Homo sapiens: one gene and its partners. The protein of the gene in region 2 purifies or fractionates together with the protein of the main gene of each other region. This does not show direct contact. Each region holds a gene or a part of one and is shown on either strand. Other genes may lie near its edges.

Region 1 (5,460 bases), on a different chromosome or scaffold from region 2:
CATATTGTTATATATGGCTAATATATGACTTTTTTTTTTTTTTTTTTTTGAGACGGAGTCTCGCTCTGTCACCCAGGCTGGAGTGCAGTGGTGCGATCTTCGCTCACTGCAAGCTCTGCCTACTGGGTTCACGCCATTCTCCTGCCTCCGCCTCCCAAGTAGCTGGGACTACAGGCGCCCGCCACCATGCCCGGCTAATTTTTTTGTATTTTTTAGTAGAGACAGGGTTTCACCGTGTTAGCCAGGATGGTCTCAATCTCCTGACCTTGTGATCCGCCCGCCTCGGCCTCCCAAAGTGCTGGGATTACAGGCATGAGGCACTGCGTCCAGCCATATGACATATGTTTTGAATAAGATAATTTTAGTTATTATAGGACTTATATTGATTTTCAAGGAATAAAATATCCCTATATGACTTTACACTGGGACTTCAGTTCACACTGATAAACACATACTGGGCAGTTACTATTGAGCCAAGTTCAAGATCCCTGCCTGCAACCTGAGCTCATTGTTAGGGCTCTCTTATGGCAAGTTTACATAACAATCTTGCTTCACGTAGATATATAATTGAGAAAATCTTGGGGATTGGTCATAACCTGCAGACTTCTTTCCTATATCATTTTCAGCTTCACTTAAGGCAATAGTGATATGTCAGGTTTTTTTTTTTCTAAAATTATGGAAGAAGCCAAAGTACAGAGCTTCCATGGTGTTAACAAAAGAAGTGTGTACCCTATTAACTATGTAGACAGTCAGGGTACAGTGGCTCACATCTGTATTCTCAGCACTGTGGGAGGCTGAGGTAGGAGGATTGCTTGAGCTCAGGAGTTCAAGACCAGCCTGGACAACATAGGGAGATCCCCATCTCTACCAGAAATAAAATTAGCCAGGTGTGGTGGCACTTGCCTGTAGTTCCAGCTGTTCAGAAGGCTGAGGTGGTGGGATCGCTTGAACCCAAGTGGTTGAGGTTGCAGTGAGCTGTGATCGCGCCACTGCTGATTGTGCCACTGTATTCCAACTTGGGCAATAGAGTGAGACCTTGTCTCAAAAACAAAAAACTACGTAGGCAGCAGAAAGAGTGTTCAACTGAGAATTTGTAAGAACCTGATTGGCAATCTGTCCTCAGTTTTGATCCACTGAAGCTCAAGTGTTTAGTCGCACGATTTGCAGAAAATCTCAGAAGAGACAACTTAGCCCTGAGAAGAGTTAGGAATTGCTCATGCTCCTATAACTAAGGATCCTCTAATTTGTTTGATCTGTTTATCCTGCTAGAATTGTCTCCTTAAATAAATTTATCTGCTTACCAGAATTGCCTAATATTAACATAACTGTTAAAACATTTGCTTCAGGTTGTGTGAAATTAGTATTTAACTCTTCTAATGATAGCATTTTGGCTAATAATTTCAGCTGCTTCTTAGGTCCATTCCAGGAATGAAGAGCAGTACTACATCCTTAGGAAATACAGTCATGTGCCACATAATGACATTTCAGTCGATGATGGACTGTATATATGACAGTGGTCCCATAGATAAAACGGAGCTGAAAAATTCCTATTGCACAAATACTTACCATTGTGTTACTATTTCCTTATGATATTTAGTACAGTTACATGCTGCACAAATTTATAGCCTATGAGCAATAGGCTATATCATATTGCCTAGGTGTGTAGTAGGCTAGACCATCTAGGTTTATGTAAGGACATCCGATGATGTTCACACAACGATGAAATCACCTAACAATGCATTTTTTAGAATGTATCCCCATGGTTAAGGGACATACAACTGTATGTAGTTAGTCACTAGCGTTCTTTTGGCTCTATGTGGAGGTCCTAGCAGGACTAAATATGTGTCATATCTTGCTATCCTAGTTTAAGCTGAATTTCTGTTGTACTGAAGGCTGCTCTAGTATTGGATATATTGTTTATTTTTATTAGCAGATTCATTAATTAAAACCCTTCTGTTTCTTTCACAGATGAGTGCCAAACCAAATATGGAAATGCTAATGCCTGGAGATACTGTACCAAAGTTTTTGACATGCTCACAGTAGCAGCTGTAAGTTTCTATTTTTAAAGTCTCATGTACGTTCCTGCCAATAACACATTGCATATTTTTATCTAGTTGTCATCTCAATTATATTGATATCTTTAGTATTCACTGATGAGTTTAGATATGCCTGAGGTTATATGTTCAACTCTTTGTTATCCTTTTTTGCTAGTTAATAGATGAGCAGATTTTGTGTGTCCATGGTGGTTTATCTCCTGATATCAAAACACTGGATCAAATTCGAACCATCGAACGGAATCAGGAAATTCCTCATAAAGGAGCATTTTGTGATCTGGTTTGGTCAGATCCTGAAGATGTGGATACCTGGGCTATCAGTCCCCGAGGAGCAGGTTGGCTTTTTGGAGCAAAGGTCACAAATGAGGTAAAGCCAACATTTTTGGAAATGTAATTTGTGGATTGCTAATGGGCTGCATAGAGAACTATGGTGGCCCTAGATAACAAACTTGTAGTCTAGCTTACTCAAAATATGGTGGCTGTGGATATTAAATTTCTAGTTTAGTTATTAACGTATGTCTTTCTTTAATGGTTAAATAAGATGACACAGTGAAAGCACCTACTCCAGCATCCATTTGGTAATAATGTATAAAGTAAATGTTCTTTCCTTTTTTTTTTGTTTTTGAGATGGAGTCTTGCTCTGTCGCCTAGGCTGGAGTGCAGTGGCGTGATCTTGGCTCACTGCAACAACCTCTGCCTCCCAGGTTCAAGCCATTCTCCTGCCTCAGCCTCCTGAGTAGCTGGGACCACAGGTGTGCGCCACCATGCCTGGCTAATTTTTGTATTCTTAGTAGAGATGGGATTTCACCGTGTTGGCTAGGCTGGTCTTGAACTCCTGACCTCAGGTGATCCACCCGCCTCAGCCTCCCAAAGTGCTGGGATTATAGGTGTGAGCCACCGCACCCGGCCAGCCCCTTTCCTTTCAAGTACTGTAGTTAAGTAACAAAATGGCAAGACCAAGATAGGCAATACTTTTTTTTTTTTTTCTCAAAGACCTCAAATCACACAGATACAGACACTTTATTAGTTTCCTCTACAAGAGACAATAACATGAATCTTTTTTTTTTTGAGACAAGAGTTTCGCTCATGTTGCCCAGGCTGGAGTACAATGGTGCAATCTCGGCTCACTGCAACCTCTGCCTCCTGGATTCAAGCGATTCTCCTGTCTCAGCCTCCCGAGTAGCTGGGATTACAGGTGTACACCACCACGCCTGGCTAATTTTGTATTTTTAGTAGAGACGGGGTTTCACCATGTTGGTGAGGCTGGTCTTGAACTCCTGACCTCAGGTCATCTGCCCACCTTGGTCTCCCAAGGTGCTGGGATTACAGGCGTGAGCCACCGCGCCCAGCCTACGTCAAATCTTTTTTTTCTTTTTAACAGAAATCTCTGTTCATTTGAAAAGCCAAATAGATCCAAAGAAAGAAGATGAAAATTAAATACTTAAATTAATCAAAAGGCACTATGATACCACCTAAAACCTACTGCCACAGTGGTAGTAGGCTAAGGAAGATCAAGCTACAGCAAATCATGTAATGTGAATGTTAGCGATTACATAGCAGGAAGCACATTTGCTTTCCAGAAGACTACGGTACAGTGTTCATTTGGGCCCAAGAGGATCTTTGGCCAGGAAAGGATCAAGATGGATGAAGGTAAAGCCAAATCAAAGGAGTAGGTACAAAAGAGAATCCAAGCTACATAGTCAAGCAGATGATGATGGATCAGGCTTCTTCCTCCCAAGAAACATTTGCTGCGCTGTGCTGCCTCCCCCCTCAACCACCCCCCACCCCCTACCCCATGGCTGCTCAAGCCCAACTGCCTACTCCTGCCTTACAGGGTGCTCAGCCACCGGGACTAGGTTTGGGGTTGCCCAGGGCTCTTGCCATAATTTAGCATAGACCTTGGGGAGAACTGCTCACACATGGGTTGGCTTTGCTGCTGGTTGTTCTCAACAAAGAAAACCCTGAAGCATTCACATGCAGAGTAGTCTGAGCTTCTCCAGTCACAGTCAAACACCCCCACACAACATCCTCAAAAGTCTGAAATCTTGTAACAGCTGAGCTATAGTTAAAGCTGCAAGGCTCACAGAATCATCAAGGAAGCCAGAATGAGACAATGCAGATAGGAAGTCCCAGCAGTTAATCTCAATCCTTCTTTCTTCATTTCGGATAAGCTCAGATATACCTGATGTGGGATATAGAAAGCTACACTGGAGCAAGCTGGGTCTTCTGCTGAATTCGTCATCAAATACCAAGGGAAAACAAGGGGTGGGGTGGATTTTATTCTTAAAAAGCCTCAGAAGTTACTGTATTATAAAGGGACATGACTGAATAGGTAAGAAACGGATTCTTCATTGTGAATTTTCCTGATGGCTTCTGCAAGGCTCATAGAGATGTTGATCACCTGTATTTTGGAATGGTGCTTCATCTTGTCCTCCTGGGGTATGTTATTGGTGACTACTACTGCTTTAAAGCATGCGTTGTTGATGTGAGAAATAGCTGGACCAGAGAAGATTCTGTGAGTCAAGATAGCATAAACTTTGGTGACTCCAGCTGAGAGAAGTTTGTCAGCTGCATGGCAGATTGTGCCACAAGTGTCAACCATGTCATCCGCAAGGATGGCCACCAGATCCTTCACATCTCCCACAAGCACCATGCGGTCGACTTCATTGGCCTTCTTTGTGAATCAAGGCAAAGTCCACATTCAGCCTGTCTGCAATGGAGGTCACTCTCTTAGCTCCACCAGCATCAGATGAAACAATAGTGCAGTTCTTCTGCTCAGAGATATTCTCCCTTATCCACTTCAGGACACCTGGCTCTGCATACAGATAGTCCACTGGGTTATCAAAAAAGCCCTGAATTTGAGAAGCATGTAGGTCCATGGTGATAATATGATCTGCGCCTGCCACAGATAGCATGTTTGCAACAAGCTTGGCTGAGATTGTCACCTGACTCTTTATTATCCTGCTGGGCATAAGGGAAGCATGGGATGACTGCAGTAAGCTGGCTCGCTGAAGCAGTCTTGCAGGTATTAGTCATGATCAAAGGCACCATTAAATTGTCATTGATTTTGCCACAACCACTCTGAATGATGTAGACATCCTTTCCACGTACACTTTTGCCAATTTCCACACAGGTCTCCTAGTTGCTGAATTTCTCAATCACTGCCTTGCCGAGCTCCAGGCCCAGGCGATCGGCAGTTTTCTGAGATAAGCCCTGGTGGGAGCTGCCGCTGAAGATTTTGATATTCAGGATCCTGGCCAACTACCCTAAGCACTCTTCACTAAGTGATCACTGCTGCTGCAGAGACTGCAACCAAAGTCGGCCCAGAGACTCAATACTAATCTCTTTGCGATGCTACTCCGCCATCTTCAAGATAGGCAGTACTTTGAACTTTCAACTGTTTTCA
Region 2 (6,036 bases):
CCTACAAGGAAATAGCATGGAGTACAAAGAATGTAAGAGAAATCAATTAAGGTGGGAGGCAGCAAACAGTTATAAACAAAATAGTCATGAAACTCAAGAGTCGAATGGGAGAGTGGGAAATATTTCCTCTTTGTTTTGAGCTACACACACACACACACACACACACACACACACATTACTAAGTGAAATACATTTGTAATCTGAGCTAGGTAAATTTTAATATGAATTGTAGATCTGACTTTGCCATAATTACCTCACAGGATTGTGAGGATCAAATATAATAGTTGTGAAAGTGCTAAATTGTAAAATGCTATACTCACATAAGATAGATGGTATCTACTCAAAATGCAGACAAAACCCTCTCATTTCAACTCTAAGAGTAAGCCAGCAATGAGCTCTCTAGGGCACAGAGGGGAGAAAAATCTCCCTCTGGTCTATGTCCAGATTGTCTTGGAAGAATAGGCTGAATACTCATTGCATGAGCTGGCTTTGAATGCAGACCGAAGATACTATCAAATTGGTCTAATGGACATGTGGCCAATGCCACAAAAGAACTGTGTGTAGAAAAATCCTTAATCTGTTGAAGAAATAACTTCCTTTTCCTCTTTCTTAACCTTCACAAATGTTTATTTCCTGCACAATCCTGATACTAATTTGTGCTAATTTCTCCCCTTTGAGGAGGGAAAACAAGGGGCAGGAAAGGGAATGAAGATTCACCAAAACATGCTGAAACACATATAACATTTTCCTTTCAATACAACCTACTGGGGTAGAAAAATAAGTCTAGGATGTAACACATATGTTCACATTGCTATGACCATTTTACAGATAGAAAACTGAGGCTAAGAGAGACTAAATAACTTATTAAAGGCCAACTTATTCAAAACCACAAAGCAAACATTTCACTCTGGGTCTGAGTGATAACAAAAGCCCTTGTATTTTCCACAACAAAAACATACCTTCATCATTTAAAAAAAAGGTTAGAAGGATAAACAGCTAAGAAGAACCAACTCCTATTTTTAGCTCTTTTTTTTTGAGCTCTATCATTAGATTTTCGTACTGTGTAAAATTTCCATTAAATTTTTAATGTAAAACACCAGTTCCTCAATCTTTCATTATTTAGTGCTACAGGGCTCAAACCGCTTCTGATTACAAGTACAAACAATAATAATTGCAAAATGCCCGAAAATTTTCAAGAAAAAGCACAAAATCACAAAACAAAACAAAACAAAACTGAAAAGACCTTATGAGCAATGTGTTCAAACCACCACAATTTATAAATAAGGAAATTAAGGCTCAGATAGGTTAAGTGACTTGCTGAGGGTCACACAACTTGTCAGTTCCAGACTCAAGATCAGAATTTAGATCTCCAAACTCATAGTCCAGGGCTGTGCTCTTTTTGCAAACCAAAAAGAAATGACTGCACTTAAATATTTAGTCCAGAATATCCTCAAAATTGACTGTAATAAAAGTTAGCCACATGGCAAGGAATGAATAGAGTTGCTTCATACCAAAAATGAGCTGCCAGTCACAGTGATAAGATTTCTTTCTTTCTGAGAACCATGGTTTCCTGCTGCATTGGGGAATCCAAACTGGGTTTCTCCCTCCTGTCCAAAGAAGTCAGAGTTAGGATGTACGCTCCACTCCGCTTTGGCTGGTGTCAGTAGTTCTGAGACACTGTTTTCACAAAGGGTGCTCGAAGGAGTCAGAGTATCTGTGTCCACTGTTAGCTTACTGCTGGGTGTCAAAGCCTGAGGCTCTGGACTGGAGTTTTTCATGGCCAAAGAGTCCAGAGATCCCAATGGCCCCACACTTACACTTGAGACCTCATCCATATTTAAGGAGCTCTGCTGAAAACCAGTGGCCGCCGTTCCAAAAAAGAGAGAGGTATCCAGACTTTGAGGAGGGTCGCTGGTGGCCATCAAGGACGGAGGGTCCACAGCCTGCCCTACGGAATTATTATTATTAGCAGGGAGGTGCCCTGCCAGAGTCGAGCTCACAGAAGCCACATCAATAGTCAAGATTCCAGAGTTCACCAATGCTGTGTCCAGCAATGCAGCAGAAGTACTGTCAGGTACATCAGAGAAGAGAGACACTATCTCTGCATCACTGAGATCATTCTGTCTCTGGCTGGTAAGTTCACTGCTGGGTGTAAGAGAATTTGCTGCTTCTAGCTGAGCTAAGAGATCCTGGCCCACCTTATGCCTTTTAACCATGTGCGTCTTCATGCTGTGCTTGGATGTGAAGAGTTTATTACAAGAGGAGATCGGGCAACGGCTTTTCCAAGTGTCCACATCCTGCAGGTGTTTCTTGGAGTGAATGTAGAGGCTACTGCGAGCAGAGAACCTGGCACAGCAGCCTGCCACAGGACACACGAAAGGCTTTGTGCCCAGGTGGGTAATGCTGTGGCCTTTCAGATGTTCGGCCCTCGTGAAAGATTTCCCACAGCCTTCCACAGGGCACATGAACCTCCGGTCATCGTCGTGCTTCCTTTTGTGCCTTAAGAGTTTGGACATGCTGGTGAAGTTCCAGCCACAGCCATCAAAGTCACAAAGGAAAGGTCTCTCGCCGGTGTGACTCCGCAGGTGAATTTTCAGCCTACAAGCCTTGTCATATTGCTTGCTGCAGCCAGGGAAAGAGCAGGAAAACAGTTCCTGTTCCCTGAAATGGGCGCGGTTATGGGAAAACAGAGCACTCACTGTGATAAATGTCTTCTTGCAGCCAGAAAACGCGCACTGGTAAGGCCTCTCGGGTTCGAAGTGGCTGCGCTGGTGGGCGCCGAGTTTGGCCTGCGTGGGGAAGCTCTCCTCGCACACCTCACATTTGAACGAGTTCTCCTGCTCATGGCCCTTCATGTGCGCCTTGAGGTTGTACACGGTGGTGAAGCTCTTGCCACAGCCCTCCGCAGGGCAGCCGAAGGGCCGCAGTTTATCGTGCGACTGCAGGTGCCTCTTGAGCTTGTAAGAGGTGGTGAAGGTCCAGCCGCAGCCACCCAGGGGGCATTTGAAGGGCCTCTGGCCCTGGCTGCTGCTGTGCGTCAGCAGGTGCATCTTCAGCTGGTGCTTCTTGGCGAAGGTTTGCCCGCACAGCGCCTCGGGGCACAGGTACAGCACCACGCCTGGACCAGAGCCCAGCAGTCCGCGGGGGCCCAGGGCGGCGGCCAGGCCCTCCGCCTCCTCCTGGGGCGCCGGAGCAGGCGCGGGTTCTGCGGGCTCGGCTAGCAGGAGGTCGGACCGCAGCTCTGGGCAGTCACCCGGGTGCGCGGCTTGCGGGAACCCAGCTTGGGGGGCGATCAGACACCTGGGCTGCTGGGCAGGAGCGGCCCCTGGCTCCCAGGCGTGTGGTGGGGGCGTGGCCAGGGTGAGGACGCCGTTCTCAAAGCGCAACAGCAGGTCCTGGTTGTGGATAGTGACTGTGCCCGCGAAGGCCGCGGCGGGGCCGGGGGCGGAGATCGGGGCCGGAGTGGGAACCGCGGACAGGCAGTGGGGGCCCTGCGCAGAGCAGCCCGCGGGGTTCGCGCCGCTCTCGTCCCCCTGGAGCCCCGGGCCCGCCTTGGCCTCCTCCCTCAACACAGGCCCTGCGGCCTGACCGGAGCCCGCGGTCTCCACGTCGCCACCCACCGGGTCAAGCAGCACCAGGAAGAAGTCGTCGCCGCCGCCGCTAGGTTGATGGGGCCTCGGCGCGAACAGGCTTGGGCCAGGGCCCCGTGATGCCGTGCTGGCCTCCTCGCGCCGCCGCCCGGGCCCGCCATCTTGGGGGCCCCGGGGCAGCAGGAGGCGGCGCGTGGGGACCTGGCCAGCCGGCGAGTCAGGGCCTCGGTGGACTCGGCCGCCACCCGCGGGGATACCGCCGCCGCCGCCGCCCTGTAGTGTCCCGCGAGCCGGGAGCAGCTTCGGGATTTCCATCTCTGCGTCCGAGAGGCTCGGCTGGAACCAGAGCCGAGGAGGAGGCGCGATCCCGCCCCCTGCCGCGGGCCTGAACACGTTCCTGAAAGGGGAAAAAAAAATGTGCAATGCGCAGAAACTGGCCCTATCAGATATTAAAATGTATTCAACGCCACAGTGATTTAAATATTCTGGTACTGGGTCTCTGGAACGGAATAGAAAGCCCAGAGGTAGAGCCTGGTATGCATAAATATATTCTACAATTAATATAAGTAATTAAGGAGGTCTTCTGAAGTAATGGGGAAATGACGACATCTTGTTCAATAATGCTGTGGAACACCTAGGTATCTATCTGGTAAAAGCAATTTTAATCCGTGACTCATTGTATATACCCAAATAAACACACGCCAGCCCCTCCCAGTGTTAGACATGTTGCTTCATACTTTTTGTGTGTTAAAATTTGTTTATTGGCTGGCTACCTGGCTGGATTGATGGATGAAAGACAATTCCTGAGAGAAAAAACTGTCTCTGTGTCAGCATTAAACCACCATAGTGCTGGCATTTCTGCGGAAATTGCCCTTCCCCTTCCCACCTCTGCGCGGGACAACTTCCATACTCACAATTGTCTTGAGCAAAGTGCTCGGTACAATTTGCCACATAGTTCAATTTTTGTCTGCTGATAACAGAGATTAGAATGAGTGAGAGATGCGGCCAAAACAGATTAGCACTCTTCAGCCTACAAATGCAAAGTCTGGAGGATGAAACAATTTATACTGAAATCTGGAAAAAAACCCAACCCGCCCCTGGCTTCTCCCTATACAGTGCACAACCTAAACCAACTCTTTGCCCTTCGACGATCGGTTGTACCATGATAAACTTCATGTCCACTCTCATAGCACAATGAGGGCATTGCTCAGTTTATTCTGCATTCTCCAGCACATTCTCTGGGCAGGAGTTCCAGTTAAATGTGTTAAGGTTAAACCCTCAGTCACTCAATGGACTCTGCCAAGTAATGTGCACAGACGATCTTGTCCACTCGCCCCGGTGTACCTGCTCACATTTAAGTGTGGTGGCCCAGTCTTGCTGGGCCTTTGGTGCCTAATGTCCTTATTAATGATGACGACAATCCTCCAATTTGTCTGTCACGAATGAGTTTGGAATTGACACAAATATAGGGTGAAATATCTGAGATGAGAAGGCTTAGAGTGATGAACAGATTGGTGGTGGTGGGGGTGGGGGGGTGTAACCTGTTGTTTAAATACTCCCAGCTCTCTCGCCCTCTTTTAATAACAGTGGACACTTGGTCTCTTGAAAATCAAGTTTTTCAACCATAACTATTCGAACCTCATCAAAATTTCTACTCCACATACTTTTCTTTCTATTACTTTTTCTGGAGGAAGCACTTTTCAAATCTGAAATTAGAAGAGTGCATATAACGTATCTGTATAGTTTAGATTATTTTACAAAAGCAGACACCTACTTAACCAGGACCAAGGTCAAGCAATAGACCACTGCCAACCTCCCAGAATACAGCTGCTGTACTCCTTCCAGTCACAAACCACACTCTCCTATATAGATATAGTAATTGCTCCGACTTTGTAATAATCATTTCACTGCTTTCCTTTATAGCTTTATCACTTTTGTACGCATCCCTAAACAATAGAGTTGATATGAAGTTGTATAAGTGGAATCATACGGCATGCTTCCTTTTATAGCTTGCTTTTTTCACTCTGTATTATACTTGAGAGACTCGTCCATGTTGTTCATAATAGCTATAAGTAAGTAGATCCTTTGTCTCCATCGACTGTCTTTCCAGCATATGCTTATAGCAAAGTGATTATTGTATGATTATTCCACTCCATTCTACAGCAGATGGAGATTAGGATTGCTTCTACTTTTCAATGATTATTGTGAACATTCTTGCACATTTCTAATGGGACACGTGTAAAAATCTCTCTAGGGTATATATCCAAGAATAGAATCACAGGGCCATAGGGAATGGATATCCTCAGCTTTACTAGATGATGCCAAATTGTTCTCTGTAGTGATTGGGAGAGTTGTCAATCCCACCAGCAGCATAGAGAGTCCTTACTGATCCACATGTTCACCTACACCAAGTATTGCCCGAATTTAAATTTTGCCGGTCTACTGG
Region 3 (5,460 bases), on a different chromosome or scaffold from region 2:
TTGTGTGCAAACTTTTCTATTCAAGTCTTCTCCCATTTTTTCTATTGAGTTGCCTGCCTTTTTCTTATTCATTCCAGGAGTCCTTTATATCTTCCCAATACCCAGTATCTGTATTGCAAACAGCTTCTCCCATTCTGTAGCTTGGTTTTTCACTCTCTCTCTCTCTTTTTTTTTTGAGACAGAGTCTCACTCTCTCACCCAGGCTGGAGTGCAGTGGTGCGATCTAGGCTCACTGCATGCTCTGCCTCCCAGGTTCACGCCATTCTCCTGCCTCAGCCTCCCGAGTAGCTGGGACTACAGGTGCCCGCCACCACGACGGGCTAATTTTTTGTATTTTTAAGTAGAGACGGGGTTTCACCACGTTAGCCAGGATGGTCTCGATCTGCTGACCTCATGATCCGCCCGCCTCGGCCTCCCAAAGTGCTGGGATTACAGGCGTGGGCCACTGCGCCCGGCCGGTTTTTCACTCTCTCAATCATGCCTTTTGATGGACAAAAAAAAAAAAATTTTAATTTTAATTTGGTACAATTTATCAATATTTTCTTTATGGTAAATGCTTTTTGGTGTCCTGTTTAAGATGTCTTTGTGTACTCAAGGTCAACAAGACATTCTTCTAAGTTATTTTTTTAAATTTCATTTCAAAATTGTTCTCATCTGAATCTATGACCCATCTAGAATAAATTTTTGTGTGAGGTATGTTGACTTCTTGAGTAAAATACAAGGCAGGGTCACCCTTAAAAACTGATTAGAGAAGAAAAGTCTCTGTTTTTCTTTTAGGACCTTTATACAAACTCAGCTTTTAGCACCTCTCTACAGGTCTTCTCTCTAGTGAATACACCAGTAGCCTTCTTTTCGTTTTTGACTTTTATCTTGTTAACTATCGCCATCAATCAAAATACTGTTGGTTTTAAGGGGTTGTTTCATCCCACTGGCTAAATGTAATAAAGTACACTTATACCACACTTGACTGACAAAATGTCTAGAAATGTAGTGTTTACTCTTCATTATATTTCAACAGTATTAACTATAATGTCTGTTTGTTAACAATGGTACTTGATGACTTTCCATTTTATTTTAGAGAGCCAAAGTTAAGTTTTTGGTTTCCAACTATTAATCATCCATTTTGCTAAACCACTATTTTTTTTCTGCAATGAGATGTTTAACACAAAGCACATTCTGTTACGTATTATTTATCTATAGTTAAGTATACACAGAACAACTTTTTTCTTTTAAATATCATCATCTGATGGGTAAATCAATATCCAAGTAATATGTATAAAAGTATTTTTTATATTATAAAGTATTATGTGATAGAGATTAACATTATTAATGCCTAAATTTTTTTTGGAAGCCTCGGCTGTACAAGTTGTAAAACATCACCAAAGAACGCTAGAAATCCCTGTTAACATTTCTAAGAAAGATTCCATACATAAGAGGAGGTATTATTAGCTACATAAAAGTCAAAACAAGCCAGAAAACATGTCTTATCACTCTACTGTCTATTTTAAGAAAGTTTAATGTGCACCAAAAGAAAATGAATACTAGCTATGCTCATGGTTACTTACTGTCCATCAAATACAACAAAGAAAGCAGTTACTGACGAGCATTTTCTTTTTAAAGACTTGCCAGGGAAGTTAAATAAAAGCTTAATGATTATTTTAAGTTGATTTTTAAAAAATATTTAGTAATTAAAGAAAATGAATACCTGATCTCCAACTGTCTTCAACAACATGTTGGATAAGACCTCCAAGGAAAGGAACTCGAACCATTTCTAAGTGTTCCAAGTTTCGGGCAGAGGCTAAGCCTGTTACTAAAGGGACATATTTCAAGGAATTTGTGGGTCCTGGAAAAAAAAAAAAATCTTTGATAGAACAATGTAAAGTGCCTTAAAATGAATTTCAAATCAGTGAAAGACATGTATAACTTATAAACTCTAAGTCTTAAAATGACAGCCAAATTGGCTCTCTGAAATCAGGTTCTTGTTACAAATGAAAGTGTTAGCCTATTAACCATACACTTACTCAGCATAAAGGTTTTTCAGTAACACTGTAGAGATATGTAGTATTCCGTAAATTCTCTAAAGGCTCAATAGTTTTGAACTCAAACTAACTAATGGGAAAAAGTCAAGATAAAAATTTGATCCTTCACTCAAGTAAACAGCTCAATCATTTAATCATCTCTATGACCAGTGTTGCATTAGCTACTATAGAAGATCACAAAAGATATGGTCCTGTCCATCAAAAAACCTGCAGTTGACATGGAGCTAGAACTAACATAAGTAATTATAGAAGGATAAGAAGGCAGACTGCATCAAGTGTAAAAATAAGATCTGCCATACTCCATGAAAAAGAAAAAGAAAGAGGAGAAAAGTAAGTTGGAAAAGGCAGAACCTGAAGAACGCATACAAAAACAGAGGAAGAAAGTGCACATCTCAGGATAACGAAACAATAATACAGCATAAGAGAAGACATTGAGATGGAAAGCTGTATGGCTGACCAGGGAACAATGAATAGTCAAATGTGATGATAAAAGAAGATATATCTTGGAAAGGTGTCAGAATAAGGTTATCAAGAGGGGTCCTGGTTATCATGACCTTAAGCAGAGTAGTTCCCACTTAATGCTCTAGTGCAGCGGTGTCCAATATTTTGACATCACTGGGCCACACTGGAAGAGGAAAAATTGCCTTGGGCCACATTGGAAGAGGAAAAATTGTCTTGATATTAAAGATAGCTGATGAGCAGGAAAGAAAAAGAAGAAGAAGAAGAAAAAGCCTATGCATAAATCTCATAATGTTTTAAGAAAGTTTAAGAATTTGTATTGGGCATCATGTGGGCTGTGGCCAGTGGACCGTGGGTTGAACAAGCTTGCTCTAGGGCAACAGGGACACTAAAGATTTCTGTTTAGAAGGATAATACCATAAAAGCTATGTTTAAGGGAGATTAAGGAAGCCAACTATTTACATGCAGAATGATTCGGAGACCAGAAACAAAGTAAGAAGACTGAAATTTAATAAAACAATCCTAGGAAAAGTAAAAAGTACCCGTAAAAAATAGAGATATTCTGAGTTTTGTTTTTTTTTTTTTGCTGAGGTCAAACACAAATCATCTTTCTAATGTCTTTAAAACAAAAAGTACATTTATCTTCACAAGATGAATATGTTATAAGACATAAATAGTAATAGCATAATATAATTGTATTTACAAATGTAGCTAGAGTTTGCTTCAGGATATTTTTAGAATAACTTATGTTTAATTCCACCATAATTGTGTACCATTACCTGCACAGTTCCTCATGACGAAAGTTCTTAAGCTGATACAAAGGAAGTCTTTAAATGGCTGTGGTTTAGTGAGTCTTACCCACTTCATATAAAGGTGCCTTAGCATTGGGATACAAGGAATTTCAGGAACATTCACCCCTAAAACACAAATATAAAAAAGAACAAACAAGAAAAAAATCACAAAAATATACTATATTTTGCTTATAAGTTCAAGAGTCTATTTTTCATATTAACAGCTTAACCTTCAAGGATTTTTATCCGAACAAATTATACAAAATCTATCAAGTTTGCCTTATTTAAAACAGGCTTACAAAGAACAGTTTACGTAAACCATAAACTGACTTAACTTTTTTAGGAAAGGCCAATGGGAAGATAGAGTTTAAAAAGTATTTCTATGTCTTAGACATGTAAGTCTTTCTCATAATCTTACAACTCTTCTAGGATACGTTTTCCCAGAAGAGGTAAAGTGAAAATGGATTACTGAAAGCAAAACTATAACGATGGAGATGGAACACACAAATTTACTATTTGACTACCAACATCCACTGCCCCCTAGTAGGAGAACTATATTTCTCAGAGCAAAGTCAGCTAGATGGGTTTAAATATGCAAATAGATATCTGGAAGATAGCCAAACACAGAACTTTAAAAGCTGTTTTCTATAAATATATGAATCTTAAGAATTTGTAAATGTGTGGGAGAAGCCAGCCAGCATGGCTCTGAGAAAAGCAGAAACCTGCCAGTCATTTATTTTAGAATTTCAAATTGGTAAAGGTAATTTGATGCATGGGATCCAGGAGTGGCTTAATACTAGGAATCATATCCACAGAGGACCATGACCAGAAGAAGGGAGGTGTAGCGTGAGGTGAAAAAATACAGGAAATATGGATGAAAGAAGATAAAAGCCAAGGAAGGGACACAAATTTATTAAAGAAATCCAAGGATCCAGGATGATGGCATTTAACAAACAGTAGTTGGCAAAACTGTTTAATGCAATTTTTAAATTTGAGACAATAGGAGCTCTGCTAGCAAGAATAACTAGAGAATGTAAAATTGCAGTACTTGAATGGTCAGTTGTTTATAAAGGCTAAATTCTACCAAATGTTCTTATTGTAACCTACAAGGATTACCCCTTAACTTGTTCCTCTCAAAATAGCAGAGTTAAATTTAGTTTGAACTATGCACACACATTGTATAGCAACAAATGGGAAGTAAAATTAAGGATGAGACAAAAGGACAAAAAGCAGAAGTGAGGTACAGATTGAGATGTAAGATGCAGAAGTCACAAAGGTTAAATTTAGCATATATTGTAATACTATGAAGATGGTAGTACTGATTGTACTGATTAGGAAACCCAAGGAAGAAGGGTGAGACAGATGCAGAGAAGACAGTATACCCCAGGCCCAAACCACTTTCTGTCTCAAACAAACTCTATAAACAAAGGACATAACTGCCCATTCTCCTGGTAATGTTTATTTTTATTAATTTACCACACCTCTGCATCACCATAATACAGTGTTAAACTGTTAAATGATTCCCATAAATTAATGCATTTTAATAAAACTTACCCTGTACTTATATTTGCAATGAACTGTGACAGGCATTGTAGAAAATATAAAGATATGGAAATAAGTCTTTGACCTTAAGGAGCTTATATTATAAATTCCAGATATTACAGAATCCTTTTACATCTAAAAATCCAATTTCAAACTAGATATCACTCCCTGATCTTATAAATGAAGGGTTGCTAGAAATCTTTACTCTTCTCCCATAATTGTGTATCTAAGTCTTATTTAAGACCTACTCCTTATCATTCCTGATGCTCTCCCTGTACCACCTGAGTTTCAGAAATTTCCACTTCTTTAGACCATCCCCAATACCTAGAATAATGCTTAAAACACATATACTCTCTCTCTCTCTGTGTATGTGTGTGTATATATACAGAATAAAGTAGTAAACAAATATTAAAGGCCAGCTATATTAACAGGGACCCCCGAATTCCTTTCAGTGGCCTAAGCCAAAGGTGACAAATTTGAGAAAATATTTACACTTTTTACTTAAGTTGAAGTTACTGGTATATAATTTCAAAGAATATTCAGATGGAGAATGTACACTTGTGAAGCAGTATTTCCCTCACACCAGTGGATCTTTAATGGGAAATCGGAATTTTTATACAGATCTTGCA
Region 4 (5,460 bases), on a different chromosome or scaffold from region 2:
AAATAAATGCAATAAGGTTTTAGTAACGAAAAGATAAATGATCATCATGACCATATTAAAACACACGAAATCAACTTTAACCACACACTAAATTCATTAAAATAGGCCAATAATTTTCATGACTGGAAACTTCTATATTTATCAAAAAATGATTTTATTTCAGTGCCTAGAGGAACCAGCACTTAAATGGAATTGCTTAATATTTAAATATCAGACAGCTCATCCTGAGTCTTGTCTCAAATATATTTGGTAGCTGAAATTTAAAATAATAAAAACATGAAGAATGAAAACTTTGGACTTACCACCTCAGATTCTGAGCCTATTAAAACATAAAAAGGAAACATTTTCAGGGAACAGTGCATTTTTAAGCAAAGTTATTTGTATGATTTCTATAGCACAAACATACTGATTAAGCAAGCAAATTCTCCGTACCTTTCAACTAAAGAAAAGTGGTTTCATTTTGCATCCTGAATTCATTTTAGACTCCTTAGTAATTTCTTACTGATATACCATACAAGCAAATCCACCCAAATCCCCCTTTCAACATAAGAAGCTATGCAAAAACCAGTGTATCTTTGGAAGTCCACATCTAAGGAAACGTATACTATTTAAAAGAAATTATAAAGATAAAAACAAATTTGTTTAAACCAAAAAAATTTCAGATGTTTACTTCTTTTTAAATTGAAACAAATACCAAGGGAGACCCACATACCATTCTGAGCTTCTTGACACCTTTTAATCCAGACACTGAAATTAGCATCTGCACCTAGAAAGAAAAAACTGACTATAACATCACTCATCTGCACAACCTATAAATCAACAAATACTTACTGAATACCTACTACATCCCAGGCAGTGTTCTAGGCACTGGGGAGTCGGCAGCGAACAAAACCTGTCTTAACAGACCTTATCACCAACTCTACTATAGTTATAAATATACCAATAGTTTAACATTTAGTTGTTAATCATGAAACATTTTGATTTTTTAAAAATTTTAACTACAGTCAACCTTAATTTCACAGATACAAATAATCTGCATTTCCCCCAATCCCGCTGCTCTTAGAGAAGCTTCCTCACACACAGAACAAAATCAGATGTAAATCAGACTCCCAATATGCCATCAGTTAGGGTGGGGAGGAGGCTTGGTAACTGGGAGCTGAGTTGAGGTTCAAAAGCCGTTCCCAGCCCCAGCTTGCTCTTCAATGCAGATACCTATTCAGTCCACTATTCTCTCAGTGGCTTTATCTGTTACCATGCCTTTCCTACCAACACCAAGCATCTTTAAATTCCGTGAAGTTTTGTCCTATCTCCAAGTTACATGGCAGTCGAGAGGCTATAGGTGATGTATTATATATTTATAGATAACAGTGTAAATGTATGCATAAACAAATTATTCACTTCTGGAGACACAGAACAATGATTACATTTAAACAGTCACAGTGCATAGTAAGATATGTTAAAAGTATTAAAAGTACTCTAAATAAGAGCTTATTAATTCAAGTTAACTGCAGACAAGATAAATTTGAAAATCTTAAATTAAAAATTTCTTAACAAAAATTTCTACTTTACTAATTTATAAAAGAAATCCAACTATACCAGCATTAATAAAAAATTTAAATACACTCTCACACACACTGTATTCTAGAGAACTATTGTATCAAAATCTATTATATCAAAAAGATTTGAGTAACCTATTATTTTAAGTAATCAGTAACTAAAACCAAGCAATTTATCACACAAAGAGGGGAAAAGGTAACAATTCTTTACCCTGTCTGATAAAAATAGAAGCCTAAAAGTTTAACTTAACTTTTTCCCAGATTTTGGCCGGGCATGGTGGCTCATACCTGTAATCCCAGCACTTTGGGAGTCCAAGGCAGGTGGATCACTTGAGGTCAAGAGTTGGAGACCAGCCTGGCCAACACGATGAAACCCCGTCTCTACTAAAAATACAAAAATTAGCCAGGCTTGGTGGTGCATGCCTGTAGTCCCAGCTGCTCAGGAGGTTGAGGCAGGAGAATCACCTGAACTTGAGAGACAGAGAACTGCACTATGGCCTGGACAACACAGTGAGACTCAGTCTCAAAAAAAGAAACAAACAAACAAACAAACAAAAACAAAAAAAAACCCCAAAAAACAACAACAAAAAAAGTTTCCTGGATTTAAAGACAAATTTATTTTTAAGTAAAATATCCTCAACAGCAATTTTACCAAACAGGTCTTCCTCTGAAGGCCACCTCTGAAATAACTAAAGAATAAATGTCAATGGCATGATATTAAGATATTACTCAAGAAAATAATCTAGGGGCCAGACGCAGTGGCTCATGCCTGTAACCCCAGCACTTTCAGAGGCCGAGGCAGGCAGAACGCTTGAGTCCAGGAGTTCAAGACCAGCCTGGGCAACATGGCAAATCCCCATCTCTGCAAAAAATAAAATGCAAAAATTAGTCAGGTGTGGTGGCATGTGCCTGTAGCCCCAGTTACTCAGGAGGCTGAGGTGGGAGGATCACTTGAGCCCAAGAGGTGGAGGCTGCAGTGACCCAAGATCGCACCACTGCACTCCAGCCTGGGCGACAGAGCGAGACCTTCTCTCGCTAAAAAAAGAAAGAAAAATGAAAATGTAGAGAATGGTATGACTCATGTTTCTTCAGGATTTTCACATTAGGTACCAAGGCACTACATAACTTCACTCTAGAATTTGCTAAGAGTGCAGATGTCCTGTTTGCTGACTGAATAGGCCTACTATTCACATACCAAAACTGGGATAAGCAAGTTTGAGAATAAGCCTTATCACCCAGACCTCTCCTTTTTTAATTTGTAGCTTCCATTTGCATAATCAGTGCTAAAATCCTTTTTTCTGAATAGGTACACAACAGAAAGGCAAACATTCAAAACAGTACAGAGTAAGAATGTAACATAAAATACTAAGAGTGAAGTTTCTTAATTTCAGCACTACTGACATTTTGGACCATATACTTCTTTGTTAGGCAGAACTGTCCTGGGCATTATAGAATATTTAGTAGCACCCCTGGTTTATACTCATTAGATGTCAGTAGCACAACCCCCATCCACCATTCATGATTATCAAAAATCTCTTCAGACATTGCATAAAGTTTCCTGGGAAGCAAAACCGTTTCCAGTTAAGAACCACTTCTTTAGAGAACTGTGATAAAACTCTATCATAACATAAAGATAAAATGATAATACAAGTAGGATTATGTAGTCTCCAATTTTCTGAAATTACTCACAACCTCTTAGTATTTTTCAGATTTAAAAATTCTTGGCTCTCGGCTGGGTGCAGTGGCTCATGCCTGTAATCCCAGCACTTTGGGAGGCCGAGGAGGGTGGATCACAAGGTCAGGAGATTGAGACCATCCTGGCTAACATGGTGAAACCCCATCTCTACTAAAAATACAAAAAAATTGGCCGGGCGTGGTGGTGGTCGCCTGTAGTCCCAGCTACTCGGGGGGCTGAGGCAGAAGAATGGCGTGAACCCGGGAGGCAGAGCTTGCAGTGAGTCGAGATCGCGCCACTGCACTCCAGCCTGGGCGACAGAGTGAGACTCCGTCTCAAAAAAAAAAAAAAAAAAAAAAAAAAAAAAAATATATATATATATATATATATATATTCTTGACTCTCACAATTTCTATATGTCTAGATATCCACACCACTGTGATACTTTTCATATATTCCCTCAAGAATATAACATTAAAAGTCACAATACTCTCAAAACTGTGTTTCTTCTGTACCCTCTCATAATTTACCCAAACGTACACTTCACTTCTCCATAAAAACCTTTAATGTTAAGATTTCACATCTCAGCAATCTGAATAATTTAAAATGAACAGACTTCTGACCAAGGCAAATTAAACTTTCACTTCTCCATTAGAAAAAAACAAAGCCAGACTAAACAGAGAGAGCATGTTAGGTGTTTCCATAGTTTTTTTTACTTCTAATGGTGAAGTTCATCTATGATTTAAATGCCAAAAGGCTAATTTAATCGATTTTAAGTGATCTCATATCTGCAATCAATATGAAATATAATTTAGATGAGAAAAACAGGTATTGGGTTTCTACAATTAACTTGAAATTAACATTACCAAAATTCAGCTTTGGTATTTAAGACAGAAATAGATAAGTTTATTAAAGTATAATTTTTAATACTTACTATCTAATTTTTGTCCTTCTGTAAAAGTTTCTAGGGCAGCAGCATAGTTTTTTTCATGGTATTCACATATTCTGCATGAATATATTTAAAACAAATTAAGACACACAAAAAATCTGGAAAATACCTTCTTTCTAAATAAAAAACTTAGTATTTTCTACTGTTGAAAGAAAAAATTTATTTTAAGTGTATGTTAATAAACCTAGAGACTTTCTAATATACTGTTAAGATCTAGTACAATTCCTACTAAAATTCAATTTTAGAACTCACTTCAGAAGGAATCTGACTTTAATTGTACAGACTTGCTTACTCAAAAATATAATTATACAAAGGAATTAAAGAAGTTTCTTAAAGAATAGTTATACTTATCAACAGAAACAAGATGGGATATAAAGTATACAGATATAGCGCTTTCATAGCATTAAATGTAGCCTATTCAGCTTTGCTGAATAGGATGTTGTCCAGTCAATTAAATATAGTAAATTCCAAAAGATTGAAAAAAAAAAAAAAAAAAGCAATGTGAAATCTATCAGTTTCATCTATACCTTGCAAATACTTCAATCATCACTATTTTAAAATTTACTAAGTACAGATCTCCTATCACATACTTTGGTTAACAAAATAATAGAACTATAAGTTGTATTTAAAATTGAATCATATCTCTGCTATATAATGTATAAATACAGAATTTTACAACTTATATAAAGCTTGCAATGAACTCATTCAACAAATTAAATACCTACTATCTATACCAAGCTCAACAAGAAGAGTAGCTACTGCATACCCTTTTCTCAGCATAGCAGTGGAATTATTTGGATTGAGTTCTAGAGACTTCTTTGCATCAGCAACAGCAACTGTGTAGAAAAAGACGGGTTTTTAGTCAGTTATTTATAGATCCTAGCAAATACACACAACATATGAATCAGTTTTAGATTTCTAAGTTTTCAAGTTGGTAGAAATGCCAAATGGTTTTAAATTAGGAAAAGCTAATACAAGATAGAATTCAAATAAATATTACTCTTGTACCTTCCTTTTGGCTTAACATTTAGCTTCCTTCTTAAAGCTCTTCAATGAATACAGCTGTGTCACAAAATTCACCTCCTTGTCTCATTAACATTTTCTATGTAATTTTACTCAAGGTATTCAGTTTTTCCCTATTCAGAAGGTACAAAATACAGAAATACATTACTTTTTAAATACAGGTGGTCTTGTTATGTTGCCCAGGCTGGTCTTGAACTCCTGGGCTCAAATGATCCTCCTGCTTTGGTCTCCCAAAGTGTTGGGATTACAGGCGTGAG

Evidence for each region.
Region 1: the proteins of ZXDA (region 2) and PPP6C purify together in Homo sapiens (affinity purification with mass spectrometry, with the first as the bait; one large-scale study listed by BioGRID). This does not show direct contact.
Region 3: the proteins of ZXDA (region 2) and FBXO38 purify together in Homo sapiens (affinity purification with western blotting; one study listed by BioGRID). This does not show direct contact.
Region 4: the proteins of ZXDA (region 2) and SUGT1 purify together in Homo sapiens (affinity purification with mass spectrometry, with the first as the bait; one large-scale study listed by BioGRID). This does not show direct contact.

Annotation. Positions count from the first base shown.
Region 1 is NC_000009.12:125,150,494-125,155,953, reverse strand, and holds part of PPP6C (serine/threonine-protein phosphatase 6 catalytic subunit), read left to right. Parts: intron 1-1,968; coding exon 1,969-2,048; intron 2,049-2,211; coding exon 2,212-2,421; intron 2,422-5,460.
Region 2 is NC_000023.11:57,906,516-57,912,551, forward strand, and holds the start of ZXDA (zinc finger X-linked protein ZXDA), read right to left. Parts: upstream 3,944-6,036; 5' UTR 3,906-3,943; coding exon 1,506-3,905; 3' UTR 1-1,505. UniProt on the Homo sapiens protein: Cooperates with CIITA to promote transcription of MHC class I and MHC class II genes.
Region 3 is NC_000005.10:148,402,640-148,408,099, reverse strand, and holds part of FBXO38 (F-box only protein 38), read right to left. Parts: intron 3,416-5,460; coding exon 3,278-3,415; intron 1,844-3,277; coding exon 1,706-1,843; intron 1-1,705. UniProt on the Homo sapiens protein: Substrate recognition component of a SCF (SKP1-CUL1-F-box protein) E3 ubiquitin-protein ligase complex which mediates the ubiquitination and subsequent proteasomal degradation of PDCD1/PD-1, thereby regulating T-cells-mediated immunity.
Region 4 is NC_000013.11:52,657,955-52,663,414, reverse strand, and holds part of SUGT1 (protein SGT1 homolog), read right to left. Parts: intron 5,317-5,460; exon of another isoform or gene 5,208-5,316; coding exon of another isoform or gene 5,189-5,207; intron 5,017-5,188; coding exon 4,947-5,016; intron 4,237-4,946; coding exon 4,166-4,236; intron 1,941-4,165; coding exon of another isoform or gene 1,845-1,940; intron 767-1,844; coding exon 713-766; intron 320-712; coding exon 303-319; intron 1-302. UniProt on the Homo sapiens protein: May play a role in ubiquitination and subsequent proteasomal degradation of target proteins.